3 linked regions of the Homo sapiens genome follow. Changing the gene in region 1 together with any one later gene gives a genetic interaction. Each region holds a gene or a part of one and is shown in the gene's direction. Other genes may lie near its edges. The genes, in order: ARHGEF11, GNA13 and GNA12.

Region 1 (7,000 bases):
GGGAATAGAGCTGGAGGCATGGGCAGGAAAAGCAGTATGTGATCTTCTTGGGACTGTAGCTGGCACGTGGTAGGGGCAGGTGGGAGACCCAAGTCAGAGCCATTGGTATATCCCCCTGCTGCCACATGGCACATGACTTCACAGTTACCTTTTTGCTTGTCTTCATCCCGCACAAGAGAGTAAGGGCAAGGACTTTTTCTTATTTACCAATTCCCAGCACCTTAACACAATGTCTGGCACACAGTAGGCTCTCAAACACTTGAATGAATGAATGAATGAATGAATGAATGAATGGTGTCTCCTTAACAGAGCCTGGATCTTACAACCAGAAAAATGATCCATGAGGGACCCCTGACCTGGAGGATCAGCAAGGATAAGACCTTGGGTATGTGCCAGGGGACTGGGACTGAGCAGGAACCTGTAGTGGGTGGGCCTCCCTGGGCTCTTCTGTCTTTCCCAAGCATGGAAACATGACTGGAGGTGATAGCTCAGGACATGGGAAGGGAATAATCAGAGAGAGAAATGGGGTCACCAGACTCCCAGGACTTCCTAGAGCCTCCAAGAGCCTGTGGCCCTGCATTGTGCTCATGAGGGATGAGTAGGCACCAGGGAACACCTTCCCATGACCATACCCCTCCAGACCTCCACGTGCTGCTGCTGGAGGACCTCCTAGTGCTGCTACAGAAACAGGATGAGAAGCTATTGCTGAAGTGCCACAGCAAGACTGCTGTGGGCTCCTCAGACAGCAAGCAGACCTTCAGCCCCGTGCTCAAGCTCAATGCTGTGCTCATCCGCTCTGTGGCCACAGGTACCTGGGGAGATGGTCCAGGCTGGCCTGGGGCTCAGGGACCATGTCCAGCAAGTGCTGGGTGAGGCAGGGCCAGTCTGGAGCCTTTACAGGACCTACCTGTCCACCTGTGTTCCTTTCCTCCTGTCCTGACCCAGCCTAAGTGGTAGGACTGGCCCAAAGTGGGGTAGGATGAGGGTTAGGATGGGGACCAAGAGGAAGACAGACAACCTGGCACAGGGGTGGTCAGCAGTCCCCAAGCACAGTGCTGGATGGGATGTGCACACCCAGGATGGGTGAGAGTGTCTGAGCAGGATTGGGAAGAATGGGATTAGGCAGAATGAGTAGGACAAGCCTTTCTGCTACAGAGTGACTTGGGCAGAGCTTGGTTACAGAAGATGTTAGTACCCACGGTACAGAGCTGGGTCCAGTGGACAGGGACATTTCAATGAGAAGTGTAGTGTGTGTGAGAAAGGGCTCTGGAGCAAAATTCTCTGGATTCACTTTCTTCGTCTGTAAGATAGGAGTGATACCTACCCTACCTCTTGTGGGCATCAAAAGGGATGACGGGTATGAAAAAGTTTTATAAACCCTTGACCAGGCACTGTGGCTCATGCCTGTAATCCCAGCCCTTTGGGAGGCCGAGGCACTCAGATCACTTGAGGTCAGGAGTTCAAGACCAGCCTGGCCAACATGGTGAAACCCTATCTCTACTAAAAATACAAAAATTAGCCAGGCATGTTGGCAGGCACCTGTAATTCCAGTTACTCGGGAGGCTGAGGCAGGAGAATCACTTGAACCCGGGAGGCGCAGGTTGCAGTGAGCCAAGATGGCACCACTACATTCTAGCCTGGGTGACAGAGCAAGAATCCGTTTCAAAAAAAAAAAAAGTTTTATAACTCCTAAGCACCATACACCTATCAGCCATCACTGTTATTAGAGCAGGAGAGGAATGGGGGTGGCTGTGGAAGATGACATTAGGGGTCCTGGAATTTCCTCTGTCCCTTATGTAAGTGGGTTCCAAGTGGTCCTGAAGATCCACATCTGTCTCGTGCTGCACTCTCCATCTGCGTTGAGGGTCAGGGCTTTGAGTCCCACTCTGTCACCCTGGCCCAGGCTGCAGTCACACCTGCCATCCCTAGTACAGACCCTTCTACCTTCCTTTCCTCACACAGATAAACGGGCCTTCTTCATCATCTGCACCTCCAAGCTGGGCCCACCCCAGATCTATGAGCTGGTTGCATTGACGTCATCAGACAAGAACACGTGAGAATTGATTGAGGGGTTACCCGTAACTGTGGTCCCTTTCGGACCAGGGTGGTGTTTATGAGGACAGTGGGTAGCAAGGCCAGGTTTGGGCCCCAAAGCAGTCCCTGGACAAGGGGTTGGGAAGGAAGTGGGAGGTAGGACAGAAGTAGAGAAGCTGGGAGGGGTCATCACCCCCGACCTGGTCACCAGGCCCGCTTCTGGGAGAATGAGCTTCTGGCAGTCTTCCAGCCGCTGCTGCTGCTTCTTTCCTTCCTGCCCTACTCCCTTCACCATTAGGCAGATTAGATTCATGCATCCTTCTCAGGCATTTGCCTCCCACCCAGCCCATGTTCTTTGACAGCAGCTGCCAGAGGTGGCATGGTACAGTGGAAGGAGACAGGTTGAGTCAGACTGTTTCCCAACTCCAGGGTTTTCATCTGTAAAATGTGGCTAATGCTACCTGTTAGAGGATTACTTTAGAGGGAAAACATAGAATGCTTTGCACAGAGTGTAACAGAGGGTTGGTGTCCAGGATTTGGTAGCTGCAAGTAATATAACCGCAAGGGAGCAGCCAGGGAGGACTGTACAGGGAGGTGGGCACCTGCCAGGCAGAGGGTTCTTAGGGCCTGGAAGCCCTGTTCCAGTGGGCTCAGTACGGGGTGGTGCGTGCTGCTATCTTGCTCTCACTACAGTCCTCTCTGTTCCTGCCGAGCAACAGATGGATGGAGCTCTTAGAAGAGGCCGTGCGGAATGCCACCAGGCACCCCGGAGCTGCCCCAATGCCCGTCCATCCTCCACCCCCAGGTCCCCGGGAGCCAGCCCAGCAGGGCCCCACACCCAGCAGGTGCAGTGCTTAGCCCTCCAGACCCTGCACTCTCTCCACTCCAAACCTCCTGTTTCCTGCTGCTTTTAAGCCCTTCGCCCCCGTGGGTAGACAGCCACAACAGGGAAATGCTAGCAGGGAGCAGACAGCTCCAAGTGCTGGCAGATGGAGGAACATGCCCCCTGTCCCTGCTTCTTGTCCCTGTCTGCTCCCCCACAGCCTGCCACCTGGCTATAATAGAGCTGAGCCTGAAGAAGGGTGAGGGGGATGTAGAGCAAGGGACCAGAGAAGCTCAGCTAGCAGCCCCCCTCCTCTCTGGGTTGCCAAGCAGACCAGCCAGGTGAAGAGGCCCACACCGTCCTTCTCGGATCCTACTCCATTGCCCATTCTAATGCATGAGTCCAGGGTGGAATCTCATGGGATCTCATCCTGTGTTGGTTTCCTTCCTCAGGGTAGAACTGGATGACTCAGACGTGTTCCATGGTGAACCTGAACCTGAGGAGCTGCCTGGAGGTAAGGGCCCTGAACTGTCCTGTGGGAGCCAGCCCAGGCCTTTTTCTGTAGGCACAGGTTGGGTGTGAGTATGGGGGCGATGGGAGAGTCCATCAGGGCCCGGGGTGTGAGGTTTTGATAAAGAGTAGAGAAGAAACAGGGCGGGAGGAAGAGTCTGGAAGAGGAAGGAGAGCAGACTGAACAGACTTAAGAAAGGGTGAACTCGCTCACCTGACCAGAAATTCCCACCCAGCCTCTCTGGGTGACGGCATCAGCTGTGGAAGAAGACGAGCAGTCTGGCGGGATCCACGGGCCCTGCATCCTCCAGCCAGGGGTTACTGTTGGGGAGGGAGATACATGCTGCAACAATGAGAATGGAAAACATGGCGGGGCTGGGGAGCTCAAAGGGCTTAAGATGCAGTTACTGTGATGGGATTGGTAGAGGGGACAGCATTCTCATTGAGAGCTTGCGTGAGAAATAACCTGGGGTCTTGGGTTTCAGGAGAAATCTCGGGTTTCCTGGCTGGGTCCCTGTTGTTTCCTTCTGCTTAGAATGCTTTTCCTCCTAACGCCACACCTCCTTCACGTCTTCATTCCAGTGTCCTCTTGGCCCAATCTGTTTAATACTGTAGCCAGCACTGTCCAGCCCCTAGCCCCATGCCCTGTTGTTGTTTTCTTCTTTCCGGTGGAAGTTACTGCCTTCTAACAAACTACATAATTGACTGAAGTGTCTTATTTTTGTATGTCCCTCCCCTAGAATGTAAGCTCAACATAGGCAGGGATCTTTTTGTTTTGCTTACTGTTGTATGCCAAGAGCCTGGGACAGTGCTGGCCATGGGAAGTTCTCAGTAAACAACTGTAGAATAAGTCAGTGTTCCCAGCCCCTTGGCTCCAAAGCTGCCCATAGGCTCTCCCATACGTGCCCTCTCCCTTTCCCTGCCTTACAATCTTCTCTCATCCGAAACAGGCACTGGGTCCCAGCAGAGGGTCCAAGGGAAGCACCAGGTCCTGCTAGAGGACCCTGAGCAGGAGGGCAGTGCAGAGGAAGAGGAACTGGGTGTCCTGCCTTGCCCTTCCACATCCCTGGATGGAGAGAACAGGGGCATCAGGACAAGGAACCCCATCCACTTGGCCTTCCCAGGCCCTCTGTTCATGGAAGGGCTCGCTGACTCCGCTCTGGAAGATGGTGAGTGCTTCAAGGCCCTGCCGTCAGCCCCTGGTCCCCAGTCGCACACCCAGTGTGAACTGGCAGGCGCCTGCACCCTCCACCTTCCCGAAGGCTCTTCCTGGTGTGCTTGAGGAGAGATGGATGCGGAGACAGATGTCATTCCCCACCCAACCCCCACCAGCTAGTTGGCCAGAGCCCTCCAGCTTCACCTGTGCCTGAGGTCACCACCTTGGGGTCAGTGGGGCAGTACAACGATCCTTCTGGCGTGGTGTGCAGTCCCATGCTGGGAAGACATCACCCTGTTTCCCCTCCAGTGGAGAACCTGCGACATCTGATCCTGTGGAGCCTGCTGCCAGGTCACACCATGGAAACTCAGGCTGCCCAGGAGCCCGAGGACGACCTGACACCCACACCTTCTGTCATCAGCGTCACCTCTCACCCCTGGGACCCAGGCTCCCCAGGGCAAGCACCCCCTGGGGGTGAAGGGGACAACACCCAGCTTGCAGGGCTGGAGGGGGAACGGCCAGAGCAGGAAGACATGGGTCTCTGTTCTCTGGAACACCTACCCCCAAGGACCAGAAATTCTGGGATATGGGAGTCTCCAGAACTGGACAGGAATCTGGCTGAAGATGCTTCAAGCACAGAGGCAGCAGGAGGTTACAAAGTTGTGAGAAAAGGTAAAATAAATGGGAGTGTCCAGTGGGGAGACAAGCACCCTTGCTAGGTGAGATAAGTCTTCCGAACAGCTGCTTCCTTCCCTATACTCCCCCTGGGTACCGTGTGAGCAGAGACCTACGCTGGGTCCTGGAAGAAGGAGACAACGCCGATATCAGGCAGGCTTTGGAGTTGGACATTCGAGATTCAGAGCTTAGCTCTGCCACTTAATATCTGTGTGGCTTTAGACAAAATTCTGAATCATCTCTGAACTTTGTTTTATAGCACATAAGGACATTTCTTTCTGCCTGGCACAAACCAACTACCAGTACCAGTCTCTGTTAGTGCTCCTCACTGATCTCCTGTTCCCAGGGAAAAGAGCCACTCTTCTCAGGAGCCTCAGGCCGGGAAAGACAGGGCAGGTGCATGCAGCCCCTCACGCCAGGCAACAGCTCCAAGGGCAGTAGAGGTGGCAGCTGGGACTGGAAGGGGTGGAGGACAAAGCTGGGAAGACATTTGGCGAGTGAGGGATGTGGGGAGTGAACAAGGTGGCAGGGAGGGCACCCCGGGTTGGGAAACACCATGGACGGCCTTGAGACAAGAAAAGCCAAGACAAGCTCACAGGGAGGCCAATAGATGAGCCCAGGGAGGAAGGTCCCCACCCCGGGAAGAGTGGGCTGGTCTGAGAGGGTGGCAAGAAAAGTAGAACAAAGCCTGGGGCACACATGGGATGGGGTTCCACGCTAGTGGGCCTGCCCTCCCCTGGGATTCCACTCTGCCTCCCTTCCAGCAGCATTTTTCATTCCATCTGCCCAAGGGCCACCTGTCTCCTGGGTTTCTGGGAACTGACCTTCCTTCTCTGTCTCTCGGTGAATTGGTGGAAAGTTCTCTGCACTGCCTGGGATGTCATCGTGTATGATCTTGTGTTCACCTTGTTCTTCCCATTTTCTCCTCCCCCTGTCCCCACCTCCTGCCCTCTCTCCTTCCTGTTCTCTCTCCCTTCCCTTTCCTTGTGTTTTGGTCTCTCCTCTTCCTGGTGGTGGTGGTGTCGGTGCAGCTGAGGTGGCAGGCAGCAAGGTTGTCCCTGCACTACCAGAGAGTGGCCAGTCAGAGCCTGGGCCACCTGAAGTGGAAGGCGGAACAAAGGCTACGGGTAATAACTTTCTCCTTGGAGCTAAAGACAGGCCAAGACTGGAGTGTGGAACCTGTGAGGGCAGAGTCGGACCCCTGCCCATGGTCACACACACACCCACAAGCTCCCTCAGCTGCCTGGAATGGGGAGGAGGAAGATCTGGCTCTAAAGACGGGGAGATCTGGTTCTAAAGGCTGGCTGTCCATCCAGCCTTAAGAAGCCACCTGTCCAGGCTCCTGTTCAGAATGGCAGGGATAAATGCCTGTGTGCAATTGTGGGAGGGGCAGGGAAGCCTGGCCTGGGGGTGGGGACCTAGTGTCCTTCACCTGATATGCAAGCAGCCACTTCCCCACCTCAGCCGCCGCTCCAGTGTCACTGTGGAAATCGGCTGAAAGAGCCTCCCAGATTCCGCGGTGGTTCTCTGTGCTTCCTGCCTGTCAGGAACCCTCCACGTCCTTCCTCCAGCTCTCTCTGACACCCCTTGGTTGGGTCAAGGGACCTCCAGAGGATCGTGGCATGGATGGAAGAGGGGCAGGGCAGGGCTGTAGTTCATCCAGAGCTGGAGTCAGGCAGGGCAAGAGGGCTGCTGCCTGCTCCTTTCAGAAGAGCCTGAAACCAGCTCACAATCTGTTTACTCAAGGAGGGGGAGCCACTCCAATTTCCCCAAATGAAACACTGCAGCTCTGCCACTTCTCC
Region 2 (7,220 bases), on another chromosome or scaffold:
CATCTGCTTTCTGTTTTATGGATTTGCCTATTCTGGACATTTCACATAAGTGGAACCTTATAATATGGGGCCTTTTGTTTCACTTTGCCTAGTATTTTCAAAGTTCATTCATGTTGCAGCATGTGTCAGCACCTCATTCCTTTTTATGGCTGAATAATTGCAATGTATAGATATGCGACATTTGGTTTATCCATTCGTTCATCGATGGACATTTGGACACCTTTTGGCTATTCCTTTTTTGTTGTTGTGGGTTTTTTTAACTTTTATTTTAGGTTTAGGAGTACATATGCAGGTTTGTTATACAGGTAAACTGCTCATCTCGAGTTTGGTGTACAGATTATTTAGTCACTCAGGTAATAAGTATAGTATGCGATATGTTTTTTGTTTTGTTTCGTTTTGTTTTGGTTTTTGAGACGGAGTTTCGCTCTTGCTGCCCAGGCTAGAGTGCAATGGCGTGATCTCGGCTCACTGCAACCTCCGCCTCCCAGGTTCAAACAATTCTCCTGTCTCAGCCTCCTGAGGAGCTGGGATTACAGGCGCGTGCCACCATGCCCGCCTAATTTTTGGTATTTTTAGTAGAGATGGGGTTTCATCATATTGGCCAGGCTGGTCTCAAACTCCTGACCTCAGGTGATCCGCCCGCCTCGGCCTCCGAAAAGTGCTGGGATTACAGGTGTGAACCACTGCACCCGACCAGGTATTTTTTTTTTAATCCTCTCCCTCCTCCTGCCTTCCACCCTCAAGTAGGTCCCAGTGTCTGTTGTTCCCCTCTTTGTGTCTTGTTTTTTAGAGATAGGGTCTCACTCTGTCACACAGACTTAGAGTTCAGTGGCATGATCATAGCTCACTGTAGCCTTGAGCTCCTGCATTTAAGCAATCTTCCTGCCTCAGCCTCCTGAGTAGCTAGAACTACAGCTATGTGCCACCACATCTGGCTATTTTTTTTTTTTTTTTTTTGAGACAGGGTCTGGCTCTGTTCCCCAGGCTGAAGTGCAGTGGTGCAATTTTGGCTCACTGCAGCCTCCGCTTCCTGGACTCAAGCGATTTTCCCACCTCAGCCTTCTGAGTAGCTAGGACCACAGGTGCACACCGCCTTCCCCTACTTTTTATATATTTTTTTGTAGACAGGGTTTCACCATGTTGCCCAGGCTGCTCTTAAACTCCTGGCTTAAGTGTTTGGATTACAGGCGTGAACCACTGCAGCCGGCTAATCTCTTGGCTACCATAAATGGTGCTGCCATGAACGTGGGTATACAAGTTTTTGTTTGAACACTGTTTTCAATTCTTTTTAGTATTTTGGGGGGTATACCCAGGATAAAATTACTGGGTCATATGGCAATTCTATGTTCACCTCTTTGAGAAACCACCAAGTCTCTAACTCATTTTTATGTTTACAATTTACAAGGTGTCTTGATCACCAGTTAGAAGAAGCTGGACAGCTGCAGCCAAACCCCTAGGTTGGACCCAAAGAGGTCTCTTTTTCTTTCTTTCATTCATTCATTCTTTTTCTTTTTTTTTTTTTTTGAGACAGAGAGTCTCACTCTGTCACCCATGCTGGAGTGCAGTGGCCTGATCTCGGCTCACTGCAACCTCCGCCTCCCACGTTCAAGCAATTCTCCTGCCTCAGCCTCCCGAGTAGCTGGGACTACAAGCGCCCACCACCACTCCCCACTAATTTTTGTATTTTTAGTAGAGATGAAGTTTCGCCATGTTGGCCAGGCTGGTCTCGAACTCCTGGGCTCAAGTCATCTGCCTGCATCAGCCTCCCAAAGTGCTGGGATTACAGGCATGAGCTACTGTGCCCGGCCTTCTTTTTCTTTCTTTCTTCCTTCCTCCTTCCTCCTTCTTCTTCTTCTTCCTTCATTTGACTTTCAGGTCAAAGAGGTCTCTTTTTAAAAACTACACTGACTAGAACAGCCAGACTTGATGTGAGCCAAGTTTGTTCCAAGGCAAGCTTACACGCAGGGCTTTAAACAGCTTTCTCTGCTGCTCTGCATGTCACGACATGAACTGGCTGGGCAGGAATACCTTCCTGCCTCCTAGGCATTCTTGGTTTTCCATTATATTACACACACTTCTGAAAAAAGATGTTAACTACCTAACTTACAAGTTTCTCTCCTCTTTGTTGGAGTTCAGATTAGCACCTGGGGTCAATGCAGAAACAGTGCTCGGGGACAGGTTCTATGCCCCAATCCTGGGAGAGGCGAGTCCTTGCATGGTTAGAGAACAGGGCCTCCCAAACACTAGATGAGATGATGGAAAAATTCTCCATCCAGGGCAGGCTTTTACCATATATTTTGCCTGACAGCACTGCTCAGTGATTCTGACTCTTATCAATCCACAGATATTGGAGGTGAGCCTACTCTACTTGTATATTGTAGGTTGTCCACCCTCTGGGCTTGCCAGAGCCACAGGAGATAATCCTACTACAGGCATTGTTTACTGCAGCCAATCTACTGAGTCGAGGCTTCTCGGTCATTAACCCAACCCCAGGGAGTAACTGATTAGTACCGATTTTAAAATTTAAACCTGTTCGGGAGTTTCTTGGAATGCTGACCTCTTACCTCCGCTCCCTTATACATACGAAGTTTCTGAGCCACAGGAGCCCAAAGCTACGTTGCATTGCCCAAAACAGGGACAGACCAAAGTGGCTTTTTCCACTTGAAACTAAATACTAAGAATGAAGAGGTCGGCTCTCGGGGGTCCCGGTTAAGCAGTTTCTCTGCCAACCCACAGCTGTCACTTGTGGCTTGTCTCCTGGCCTCCTTTCAGGTGTCCTGGCCTGAATCTGCTGTTAGGACAGAAAAAAAGTCCCTGGACGGGTCATATCCTCTGTAATCTGGCAGGAAAGCTAAAATTTGCGTGCTCCCATTCCTCGTTGTGTTTGTGTATCTGCTTCCTTGTTGGGAAGAGCCTACATCACAGTGTCCGGTGTAGGGGATTTTCACCATGACCTCACCCTCCTGCTGCCACTCGCTAATTCCGGCGCGGCCAAGCGTCCCTGAAGTCACATCACAGCCCAGGTGGAATGCACGAGTGAGCCATTAAATGCCCCTGGTAGCACGTCTCAAGTGAACATCAACTCCAGTTCTTTCCCCTCACAGAGAGCCCTGGTAGGGGTCTGAAAATGCCAGAAAGAGCTGGAAGTGGGGGTGGACGACGTCTGGTTACCGTTCTGGGATTCGGAGACTAGAAGGTCAAGGGAGTCACTTTAAGAAAACACACCAGGCCTGGGCCTGGTGGCTCTGTCTGGAATCCCCGCACTGTGGGAGGCCGAGGCTAGAGGATCGCTTGAGCTCAGGAGTTCGAGACCAGCCTGGGCAACATAGGGGGGAGCCCCTGTATCTAAAAATAAATACAAAAAATTTAGCCGGGTATGATGGCACACGCCTGTACTCCCAGCTACTCGGGAGGCTGAGGCGGAAGGATGGCTTGAACCTGGGAGGCGGAGGTTGCAGTGAGTCGAGATCGAGCCAATGCACTCCAGCCTGGGCGACAGGGTGAGACTCCGTCTCAAAAGAGAAAAAATAAAATGAAATAAAGAAAATGCACCAAAGGCCTGCCAGGCTCACGCCGGCTGTTCTGTTCGAATAACTTTCGAGTCCGTGGCCTCGAAATGGGTCGGGTGGGCGGTGACAGCGGGCAGCGGGCGCGCAACGCGGGAGAAAGGGAGGCTAAGTGGGAGCCCAAAGAACCGCGTCCGGGACCTGGTCTCCGGCCTCCCGGCCTTGGGGAAGGAGCCCTTCTGCCCACAAGTGGGCTCAGGCCATGAAAGGGAAACAGAAAGTCGGGCTCCCCAGCCTGGCCCACGTGACCGCGGTTCCTCAGCCCTCCCCGCGCGCCCGGCCGCGGCTGCGGGCGCGGGCACCCGAGCGACACATCGAGCTCGTGACTCGCCGCCCAGGGCGGGAGGCGGAGAAGCGGCCGCGGCGTGCGAGCGCGCCTCCGGGAGGCAGCGGGAGCGCGCACGCTCCGGGGCCACCGCCCCTCCGGGGCCGGGCCCGCCCTCCTTCCCTCCCTCCCTCCCCCGCTGTCCTGGCCCGCCCTGCCCGGCCCGCCCTGCGAGTCAGTTCGCTGGTTCCCTCCCTCCCTGGGCGCGCTCGGGCCGCCGCCGCGCTCCCCGCCCTCGAGCCTCGGTGCCGGAGCCGCCCGCCGCCGGAGGAGGAGGTGGAGGGAGCCGGAGGGGCCCGCCGAGGCGGCGGCGGCGGCGGCAAGATGGCGGACTTCCTGCCGTCGCGGTCCGTGCTGTCCGTGTGCTTCCCCGGCTGCCTGCTGACGAGTGGCGAGGCCGAGCAGCAACGCAAGTCCAAGGAGATCGACAAATGCCTGTCTCGGGAAAAGACCTATGTGAAGCGGCTGGTGAAGATCCTGCTGCTGGGCGCGGGCGAGAGCGGCAAGTCCACCTTCCTGAAGCAGATGCGGATCATCCACGGGCAGGACTTCGACCAGCGCGCGCGCGAGGAGTTCCGCCCCACCATCTACAGCAACGTGATCAAAGGTGCCGGGCCGGGAATGGGGGCCGGGGGTTAAGGGCAGGGGGGCTGGGGCGGCGGCGGGTGCGGGGCGGGGCACCGCCCTGGTCCGCTGTGTCGCTGGCGAAGGAACGGGCCCGGCGGGCGGGCTGGCGGGAAGGGGGCGCGCCCCGGCAACTGGCCCTGCCCGCCCGGGGTGCCCTCGCGCCCCAGGGCGAGAGGATGCTCGGGGTCGCCCTGCTCTCCCGCTTGTCTCCCCGGTGGGCGTCACGGCCATTCCCCCACCCCCCACCGCGTCCTGGTCTCTCCCCCTGCGAGAGGGAAGTGGGGCGAGCTGGGTGCTGCCTCGGGGTGTGGGCAGACCTCTCCTGTCCTCCCCGCTGCGGATGAGGCAGGAACACCAATAGCAGCCCTAGCCGCTTCACCCCCATCCCCTGCTCGGGCGATGTGGGCCGAACCTCGCTACCCTGGCTGGGTGACCCGAGTCACATGGGGTCGCATGCGCTCCCAACTCCCTGCTTCCTTGGCCGTCTCCTAAGCAAGCGAGTTCTGGAACCGTCGCAATAAGGGAACTTTTTGCCCGAGACTTCTTGTCAAGGGCGTAGGGTGACAGCCTCCTTTTGGGCGAGAATATGAAACTTGAGGAGTGTCAGGTTGACTGTACTGGAATCAGGAGAGAGTGGACCCATACAGTTAGCATGAAAATGTAGCATCTGTGCTTTTTCGCCCCAGTGTCACGGTCAGGTAGGATGTTTGCGTGTGATTTCTGTGCAACACGTTCCACTCTCCTTTTCGCTAAGTAACTGGGGGCTGGCAGGAAGGGAGTACCACTGCTTCTATTTAGATGAAATGTAGTAGTAAGAAGACTGGCCTAAAAGTCATGTGGATCCTGTACAGATGGAGACAATGAATGAGTGTTGAGTTAGATAATTGGCTCGGCTCTTTATTGACAGTAGTTTTAAAATTAAACTTTGTTCTTAAGTGAAAAATAAACAAGTTGTTTATTTCTGGGCATTCAAAGAAATCGAAAAGATGGTTTTTATTTTGTCATTTGAAAGATAATTAACACTCGTTTCTGCGTGTCAAGTATGTTCTATAGAAAAGGCATTTTGGCAAAATTTAGGTGCAGCGCCTGGTAACTCAGGTGCATCTGGATTTTATTTTATCTGGGGAGCAGTTTAGGAGTTTGCTACAGATTGCAGGTCTTTTTAAGTGGGATTTTTGTTCAGGAAGTACATAAGGGACTTCTGCATGTCACCCCCCCGCCCCCTCCCCGCCAACCGCCTCCCGAGCTTCCAGCGTTTGGGTAAAGGAAAACTGCCTGAAGAGCCAGGCATTATGGAGTAATGAATTAGAGAGAATCACTAGACCACAGCCAGCTCTAGCCCTAGTACCTCTGCAGTTAAACTATAAAGAACAGTTGTATTTATCCTGCTGTAATGTTTAGCTCAAAACTAATTAAGGTCTCTTTCAAGGCTGCAGACTCTGCCTTGACAGTCCTTAATTGAAGGTACCTTTGTAACCTGATGCAGCTGAACTTAAGGAATTATGTTAATGAATAGCATCAACATGTTAACTGACTGTGAGCCTGGTAAACACCTCGTTCTTAATGTACACTGAGTTGTAAGTGTGATCTACGTTGAGCATTGATTATGAGATGATGTAAGTCATCAGGAATCTAGTTTTTTCAAGTTGACATGAAATTTGACAGTAGAACAGTTTCTCAGGCTGGGCGTGGTGGCTCACTCCTGCAATCCCAGCACTTTGGGAGGCCAAAGTGGGAGGATGGCTTGAGCCCAGGAGTTCCAGACCAGCTGGGCTACATAGCCAGACCTCGTCTCTATTAAAAAACAAAAACAAAAAAACCCCACCCGTTTTTCAGTTATTCAGATGACTTCCTAATAGCCAAGTGACTGTTCAGATTGATCAAACTTAATAAAAGTAATAGATCAGTGATAGGAAAAATGAGTTTCAACTAACCTCTGTGAGTTGGAGTCCGACTTTGTATTATTTTGCAGTTGATCTTCCTCCCTTTTAGGGAAATTGAAGGCCATCCTGTAACTTAAACTGGATTGAAACTTGGGCTGGAAGAAGTTTTTAAATTTTGAATGTGTTGCTAGAAGACTCAATGTTGGGTTAGGGTGCCGAAGCAACAAACAGAACATGGAGCTATAGTAGTTGGTTCTTAGTGTTTCATAAATGAACATCTTTTAGGCTCATAAAACCTTGGTTGTGTCTGTTTTCTTCTGAGCTTGGACATTGTTGGTCTGTGCAGCATAACTTCTTTTTCTTTCTTGAGTTAGATTGTTTTTTGACTACCTTCTATCCTAGAAGTTATTTTATAAATTGGAACATGTTAAAAATCCTTCAGAGAGAGGAATTGTGCTAATAGTATTTGCTTTTCAAGGCTCTAATTTTAAGACAGTGAGCAACTGTTATTTTTTTTAACCTCTGAGAAGTTACATTTGTTTTCGATGTTGGTCTTCATTTTTGAAGAAGGTTTGTCTAGGTTAATTCAGAAGTATAAGGAAATAATACTGGAATAAAAACTTATGATAATATGTAATGACTCCTCTCCATACATTTTTTTTCTTCTTTTTAAACAAAGGTATGAGGGTGCTGGTTGATGCTCGAGAGAAGCTTCATATTCCCTGGGGAGACAACTCAAACCAACAACATGGAGATAAGATGATGTCGTTTGATACCCGGGCCCCCATGGCAGCCCAAGGAATGGTGGAAACAAGGGTT
Region 3 (7,898 bases), on another chromosome or scaffold:
ATCCCAGCGTCTTGGGCCCTATACCAGGCCTCTGAGTTCCTGATCCCCTCACTGCTGGCCCACTGGAGAGTGAGAGTCCCTGTGGCTGCTTCCTTTCCTAGAGATTTCAGGTGAGCTTACCGTGTCACATGAAGGTTTCAGGCCCTGCTGTCGGACTCCCCCTTCCTGGCTTCTCCTTAGCTCCAGAGGTGGAACTGAATACAAGTTGGGAGGAACATTCAGTCTATTCCTCCTACTCTCTACCAATTTTTTTTAACAGCTGGTAGACCAAGAAAGCATGTCTGTGGGCCATCTATTTACACATTTTAGTCTTGCATATTCTTTTTAGGAATAATATGTTATTTTGTTTGTTTTTTGAGACAGTCTCGCTCTGTTGCCCAGGCTGGAGTGCAGTGGTGCGATATCAGTTCACTGTAACCCCTGCCTCCTGGATTCAAGCGATTCTCCTGCCTCAGTCTCCCAAGTAGCACGTGCCTCCACACCCAGCTAATTTTTGTATTTTTAGTAGAGAGAAGGTTTCACCATGTTGACCTGGCTGGTCTCAAACTCCAGATCTCAGATGATCTGCCCACCTCGGCCTCCCAAAGTGCTAGGATTACAGGCGTGAGCCACCATGCCTGGCCAGGAATAATATGTTATTGTACTTATATGGATGTACCTTAATTTATTTGACCAGACCACCTCCCAGGTTTTAATTTTTAATATCATACCATACAAGGTATTGTCTTTATAGATTCTTCCCCAGCCTGCCACTATTATTCTAAATTTGCAATACCCGATTCCCAAAGCTCCACGATGATAATAATAACAATATGACCATTTACTGAGGGCCTGTTATGTGCTAAGGTCCAGTTCTAGGACCTTATCTGTATTAACTTATTTAAGGTGTAGTACAGCTTTATTTTCATCCTGATTTTACAGACAAGGAAACTACGTCTCAGAGATACTGTATGACTTGTTGAAGGTCACACAGCTGGTAGGTGATGGAGCCAAACTTCAAAGTTCTCATGTTTTTCTCCATCCTATTATACACAGAGAATGCTGTGTGTCAGACTTCCAGTTCGGGGTTTGCAGTGTACTAACCATACTTCCCTTGCCAGGAGAGCTTAGCCACCTGGATTCAGATACTGGTAAGGCAGTCACCTTTCCCCAGCAGTGTAGAGAGGGCAAATGAGATAATGCACCTGTAAGTACTTCAAAACTTTTAGCATGCCGTACAAACAGAAGGGATAATTAAGAGATTATTGTGGACTATGCAGATAACCTTGTTTATTTAAAGCACCTTAGCCCATTGACACGTGTGGAGATGTCCAGAGACCTGGTCAAATCCTCAAATCGAATATTGCCGACAGCAGAAGAATTTCTCCCATAAAATGCCATAATGTGTCATTTAAAAATGTAAGTAACTCTTGGCCAGGCCCGGTGGCTCACACCTGTAATCCCAGCACTTTGGGAGGGCGAGGCAGGTGGATCACTTGAGGTCAGGAGTTTGAGACCAGCCTGGCCAATGTGATAAAACCCCACCTCTTTTAAAATACAAAAATTGGCCAAGCATGGTGGTGTGTGCGTGTAATCCCAGCTACTCAGGAAGCTGAGGCAGGAGAATAGCTTGGACCTGGGAGGCAGAAGTTGTAGTGAGCCGAGATTGCACCACTGCACTCCAACCTGGGCAACAGAGCTGCATCACAAAAAAAAAAAAAAAAAAAAAAAAAAAGAAAAGTAAATAACTCTTTAAAATGTTTAATGATTACATAAACACAAGGCATAAAGCTATAAAGATTTAAAAAAAATAGAGACAGAGTCTTGTTCTGTTGTTCAGGCTGGTGTGCAGTGGTACAATCATAGCTCACTGCAGCCTCAAACTCCTGGACTCAAGCAACCCTCCCACCTCAGCCTCCCACCATACCTGGCTTATTTATAAGGATTTAAAGTTAGTTGTGAGTGCTGTCTGGAGCACTTGCTGAAACTGTTTTGTGAATCAGTTTTTCTTAATTTCTTAAAACTGAATGAGGAATAAACCCTGTGTGAACTGGATGAGCCAAAAACCTGTTCTGAATTCTAGTCCACTCTTTAGTGATTCAAAATTCCCTATTTCTGTCTCAGAAACATTGCTTTCTTTGGATTCTCCAATTTCTCCTCCCTTCTATTTCAATACTAGTGTTTGGCCTTTTTTTTTTTTTTCTTTTTTTTTTTTCTTTTTGAGACAGAGTCCTGCTCTGTTGCCCAGGCTGGAGTGCAGTGGTGTGATCGCAGCTCACTGCCACTTCAGCCTCCTGGGATCAAGCAATTCTCATGCCTCAGCCTCCTAAGTAACTGGAATTACAGGCGTTCACCACCATGCCTGGCTCATTTTGGTATTTCTAATAGAGATGGAGGTTTCACCATGTTGGCCAGGCTGGTCTCAAACTCCTGGCCTCAAGTGATCTGCCCACCTCAGCCTCACAAAGTGCTGGGATTACAGCCTCACAAAGTGCTGGGATTACATGGTGTGAGCTACCATGCCAGACCTAGTATTTGGCCTTCCCGTTTTTGTTTTTTTTTTTTTGTTTTTTTGAGGCAGAGTTTTGCTCTTGTTGCCCAGGCTGGAGTGCAATGGTGCGATCTCGGCTCACTGCAACCTCCGCCTCCCGGGTTCAATCAATTCTCCTATCTCAGCCTCCCCAGTAGCTGGGATTACAGGCGCCCGCCACCACACCCAACCAAGTTTTGTATTTTTTAGTAGCGACAGGGTTTCGCCATGTTGGCCAGGCTGGTCCTGAACTCCTGACCTTAGATAATCTGCCTGCCTTGGCCTCCCAAAGTGCTGGGATTACAGGCATGAGCCACCGTGCCCAGCCATATTTGGCCTCCTATGGGAGGTCATTTCCACAAACAAGCAAGACTTTCTAATCATTTTCCAAGGATTACAAAATCTTGACTCATAAGTGATACAAATTCATGGCATGATTTGTAGTATTTGTAGCAAGTGACAAATAATACATATTATGTGCATTCAAGGTTGTCAGGGAGTTGGTTTTTGTTTTGTTTTGTTTCTGAAACAGGGTCTTGCTCCGTTGTCCAGGCTGGAGTACAGTGGCACGATCATAGGTCACTGCACCCTTGACCTCCTGGGCTCAAGTGATCCTCCCACCTCAGCATCTCAAACTGCTGGGACTGTAGTTGTGAGTCACCGTGCCCAGCCTTCTGGGGAGTTTAGATCTGTGACTAAGCAAAAAGAACAAATCTGGAGGCATCACTTTACCTGACTTCAAACTATACTATAAGGCTATCGTCACAAAAACAGCATGGTACTAATATAAAAATAGGCACAGAGACCAATGGAACATAATAGAGAACCCAGAAATGAAGCCAAATACTTACAGCCAACTGATCTTCAACAAAGCAAATGAAAACAAAGTGGGGAAAGGACAGCCTATTCAGCAAATGGTGCTGAGATAATTGGCAAGCCACATGTAGAAGAATAAAACTGGATCCTCGTCTCTCACGTTATACAAAAATCAACTCAGGATAGATCAAAGACTTAAATCTACAACCTGAAACCATAAACATTCTAGAAGATAACATCGGAAACATCCTTCTAGACGTTGGCTTAGGCAAAGACTTTGTGACCAAGAACCCAAAAGCAAATGCAACAAAAACAAAGATAAATAGATGGGACTTAATTAAACTAAAAAGCTTCGGCACTGCAAAAGAAATAATCAGCAGAGTTAACAGACACCGCACAGAGATTGGACTTTGGGGACTCAGGGTAAAAGGTGGGGGGTGGCGAGAGATAAAAGACTACACACTGGGCCAGGCGCGGCGGCTCACGCCTTTAATCTTAAGGGATACCTGAGCTCCTTCTAGGAGGTTCTGATTCAGTAGATCTGGGAGAGTCAAGAATCTGTAATCAGCTGATCTCTATCAAGAGCTGATTTTGGGCTAGCTCACGTGCTAAGTGTTTGGTAAGTTCATGTTCTCAGTTTATATCTTCATGACGATTTGAGCAATGTCAAGCCATAACCAATGTCGTCAATGACACCCCCGTTTTACAGATGAGGAAACGGAAGCTAAGAACATCCAAAAGGGTTTGTTGGGGGGGGTGGGGAAAGCTGCTAAAAAAAGTTATGCAACTAGTACACCTAGTAACTGGTCGACTGGAGATTCCAACTCAGGCCCAGCAACTCCAGACCCCACTCTCTCAATCACTGTGAGACATAAGACTTTTGGGGGAGCTTCTGGTGATTTTAGTGATTAGTCAGCTTTTCGCAAAGCCTCCTAGAAGCCCATGCCACTCTCAAAGGGTGCATGTGTTTGAAATTTATGGCCCATCCCCCTCCAGTGTTTCTGGAAGGAAAATAGTGTAGAAACAAGATCATCGGAGGGAATACGACGAGCAGCTGAACCTCTTATCAGCATTTCCCAGCCTTTGGGCTACTCCGCGAGGTCCTGGTCTCACAGGCGGACCCAATCTGGGAACCAAGGGAGAATCTTTCTGTACACCTGGCACTTCTCGTCACGCCCCGTCCCCCGAACACCCAATCCAAAGCCCGTTGGGCACGTCTGATGTCCACTCAGAGCAATTATAATTGGCCATGGCGGACGATCGCTCCGCCTCCCGGGCGACCCCGCCTCCCTTTCATTCTGAAAGAAAGAACCTCAGCCTGGGCGTCCAATGAGAAGCGCCTTCACCTCAAAGATCCCGCCTCTTTCGGCGTCGACCCCGCCCCGAGGCCGGAAGGGATGCCCGCCTCCCTTGGCGAGATGAGCCAATCGAAGGGCTCTCACGGCCAGATGGACGGCAGCCGGCCCAATCCGCCGGGCCTCACGCGGCGCCGCCCGCCCCTCCGCCGGGCCCGAGTGGCGGCCGGGCGACGAGTGCGGGCCTCGGAGCGACTGCAGCGGCGGCGGCGGACGCGGCCTGAGGCGAGCGGCGGGGCGTGGGGCGGTGCCTCGGCCCGGGCTCGCCCTCGCCGGCGGGAGCGTCCATGGCCCCCGGGCGCCGGCGGGGCGCGGCCGCGGCCTGAGGGGCCATGTCCGGGGTGGTGCGGACCCTCAGCCGCTGCCTGCTGCCGGCCGAGGCCGGCGGGGCCCGCGAGCGCAGGGCGGGCAGCGGCGCGCGCGACGCGGAGCGCGAGGCCCGGAGGCGTAGCCGCGACATCGACGCGCTGCTGGCCCGCGAGCGGCGCGCGGTCCGGCGCCTGGTGAAGATCCTGCTGCTGGGCGCGGGCGAGAGCGGCAAGTCCACGTTCCTCAAGCAGATGCGCATCATCCACGGCCGCGAGTTCGACCAGAAGGCGCTGCTGGAGTTCCGCGACACCATCTTCGACAACATCCTCAAGGTGACGCGCGCCCCCCGCCCAGCACCTGCACCCAGGTGGGCCGGGGCGCTAACCCCCGCCCCGGGCCCCTCCGTGGTCCGCCGCCGCGGGCGGGGACCCCTGGGGCGAGGATGCTGGATCCAGCCCCGCCTGCACCCCACTCCCCCCCGACCCATTCCCCGAGGCCTGCTGGCGTCGTCTCTGCCCCACCCCGTCTCGCCCTTTTTGAGATGGGGTCTCGCTGTGTTTCCCAGGCTTGAGTGCAGTGGCGCCCTCACAGCTCACTGCAGCCTCGACCTCCCAGGCTCAAGCCCTACTCCCTCCTTAGCCTCCCGAAGTAGTGGGATTACAGGCGCGCACCACCAGCCCAGCTAATTTTTAAGTTTTTTTTTGTAGAGATGGGGTCTTGCTGTGTTGCCCAGGCTGGTCTCAGTCTCCTGGCCTCAAGTGATCCTCCTGCCTTGGTCTCCCTCAAGTGCTGGGATTATAGGCATGAGTCATGGCGCCCGGTCTGCCTCTGCCCTCTCTAGGGTGCCTGGGGACCGTGGGAGTGGGAACTCGGGCCAGCTTCTGGGGATGGGGAGTGGGGGCTTGGCACTTAGCCCCCTCCTGGATGTGCCCTAGCAGAATGGTATCTGTCCATTTCCCACTGGAAGATTTGTGGGATAGGAGCCCAACCGGCCGTGCCCTCCGGCTGAGCTTAGAAGAAGAGCAGTGGAGACTGGACGGGAACCAGCCATGAGTCTCTTTTTACTTTTCTGTTTTTTTAGAAAGGCTCTCACTCTCTTGCCCAGGCTGGTCTCAAGCCATCCTCCCACCTGGGCCTCCCAAAGTGCTGAGATTACAGGTGTGAGCCACACTTTCTAATACGAAAACTTCAAATGTATACAAAAGTAGAGAAAATAGTAGATTGACTGTAAAGTACCTACAGCCCAACTAAAGCAGTCATCAATTCTGTGCCAATCCTATTCACCTGTGCCCTCCCCATGGTCTCCAAGCAAATCCAACTTTGTGTAGTTGGATTAGGAAACGTTTTAGGATGTATATGAGTGGCTAAAAGATGAGGCCTCCATGTAAAAACACAACCGCAGTACCATTAGCAAACCTAAACATTAGTAATAGCTCATTATCACCAGATATCCAGTGTTCAGAATTCCTCCATTGTGGCATAATTGTTTTGTGTGACTCGACATGCATTGCAATGAATCTCCAGATTCTCCTGTCTCTTGCTTCCTTTTTTCTCTTCGCCATATTTGTGAAAGAAGCTGTAGAAGTCGGCCAGGTGTGATGGCTCGTGCCTGTAATCCCTGCACTTTGGGAAGCTGAGGCAGGAGGATCACTTGAGGCCAGAAGTTTGAGACCAACCTGGGCAACACAGCAAGACCTCAGTGCCACAAAAATGAACACATTAGTTGGGCATGGTGGAATGCACCTGTAGTCCCAGTTGCTTGAGCGGCTGAGGTAGGAGAATTGGTTGAGCCTGGGAGGTTGAGGCTGCAGTGAGCCATGTTTGGGCCACTGCACTCCAGCCTGAGTGGCAGTGAAAAAAAATAAAAGAACCATAGAGTTGATAAAGTCGGGGTTCCAGTCTCTCAGTACCGTGAGCCTGTGTTAAAGGGCCTCAAGGAAGATCTGGAGGAAACTGATGATGAGGGAACAGTGCAGCCTTGCTTACACCTAGATAGCGTCCTTTGTCCTCCCTCCCTTTTTCCTTCCTTCCTTTCCTTCTTTTCTTTCCTTCCTTTCTTTTCTTCCTCCCTTCCCTTCCTTCCTTTCCTTCCTTTCCTTCCCGCCTTCCTTTTCTTCCTTTCTTTCTACCTTCCTTCCTTTTTTCTTTTCTTCCTTCCTCCCTTCCTTTCTCCCTCCCTCCCTACCTCTCTACCCTTTCCTTGTCCCCTCACCACTTTTTCCCCAGCCCATTTTGGGGAAACCAAGTTAGAGGCGAGGACAATCATCTCAAAGCAGAGTCGGAGAGAAGTTTGCCATGCCAGAAAACCTGCCTGGAGACTAGGTTTTATGGTGCCTGGGAGATTTTAAATTTAGCAAAGCCCCGTAGAAACCTATCGGGTACATTTGTATCACTTACCCATAAGGACTCCTGCCTCAGCCCTAGAGATGAAGTGACTCCTTCCTGGGGTCTCTGTGCTGGAATCCTGGCCTCCAGACTTCCAGGCCAGTATTCGCACTTGACATACTTCTCATGGAAATGTTTCATTTTAATAGAGCTCCTTTAGGATTGTGAAGGGAAGAAAATAATTTGATAAAACACCCTTTTTCATTTTACCTCTTTCCAAGCCTCTCGGTGCGTCAGAGCTCTGGTCAGATACTTCGTGAACTTTGAAGACTAGGTGCCCAGCTTAGCTCACTGGGAGCGTCTGTGTTCAAGTGCATTTGGCTGTCTCAGGGCCTGCCCTGTAACTTCTCTGTTAAAGATCCTGATTTTATTGTTGCTGCTTGCCCAGACCTCAGAACCAGGCAGGCATAAAAGTATAGCAGTTTGACTGTCTCTAGTTTCTTCCAACTCAGTAGATGGAGAAAGTATTTGGAAACATAGAATCTGAAATCTAAATCCCTGTATGAAGTGCGTGTTAGAAAACT

Evidence for each region.
Region 2: of ARHGEF11 (region 1) and GNA13, changing one enhances a phenotype caused by changing the other (phenotypic enhancement), as found in Homo sapiens cells (one study listed by BioGRID).
Region 3: of ARHGEF11 (region 1) and GNA12, changing one enhances a phenotype caused by changing the other (phenotypic enhancement), as found in Homo sapiens cells (one study listed by BioGRID).

Annotation. Positions count from the first base shown.
Region 1 is NC_000001.11:156,937,743-156,944,742, reverse strand, and holds part of ARHGEF11 (rho guanine nucleotide exchange factor 11), read left to right. Parts: intron 1-309; coding exon 310-385; intron 386-640; coding exon 641-808; intron 809-1,962; coding exon 1,963-2,053; intron 2,054-2,753; coding exon 2,754-2,879; intron 2,880-3,309; coding exon 3,310-3,371; intron 3,372-3,669; exon of another isoform or gene 3,670-3,685; coding exon of another isoform or gene 3,686-3,688; intron 3,689-4,317; coding exon 4,318-4,536; intron 4,537-4,832; coding exon 4,833-5,195; intron 5,196-6,229; coding exon 6,230-6,325; intron 6,326-7,000. UniProt on the Homo sapiens protein: May play a role in the regulation of RhoA GTPase by guanine nucleotide-binding alpha-12 (GNA12) and alpha-13 (GNA13). Acts as guanine nucleotide exchange factor (GEF) for RhoA GTPase and may act as GTPase-activating protein (GAP) for GNA12 and GNA13.
Region 2 is NC_000017.11:65,053,589-65,060,808, reverse strand, and holds the start of GNA13 (guanine nucleotide-binding protein subunit alpha-13), read left to right. Parts: upstream 1-4,068; 5' UTR 4,069-4,215; coding exon 4,216-4,498; intron 4,499-5,034; exon of another isoform or gene 5,035-5,216; intron 5,217-7,080; coding exon 7,081-7,220. UniProt on the Homo sapiens protein: Guanine nucleotide-binding proteins (G proteins) are involved as modulators or transducers in various transmembrane signaling systems.
Region 3 is NC_000007.14:2,841,276-2,849,173, reverse strand, and holds the start of GNA12 (guanine nucleotide-binding protein subunit alpha-12), read left to right. Parts: upstream 1-4,865; 5' UTR 4,866-5,012; coding exon 5,013-5,321; intron 5,322-7,898. UniProt on the Homo sapiens protein: Guanine nucleotide-binding proteins (G proteins) are involved as modulators or transducers in various transmembrane signaling systems. Activates effector molecule RhoA by binding and activating RhoGEFs (ARHGEF12/LARG).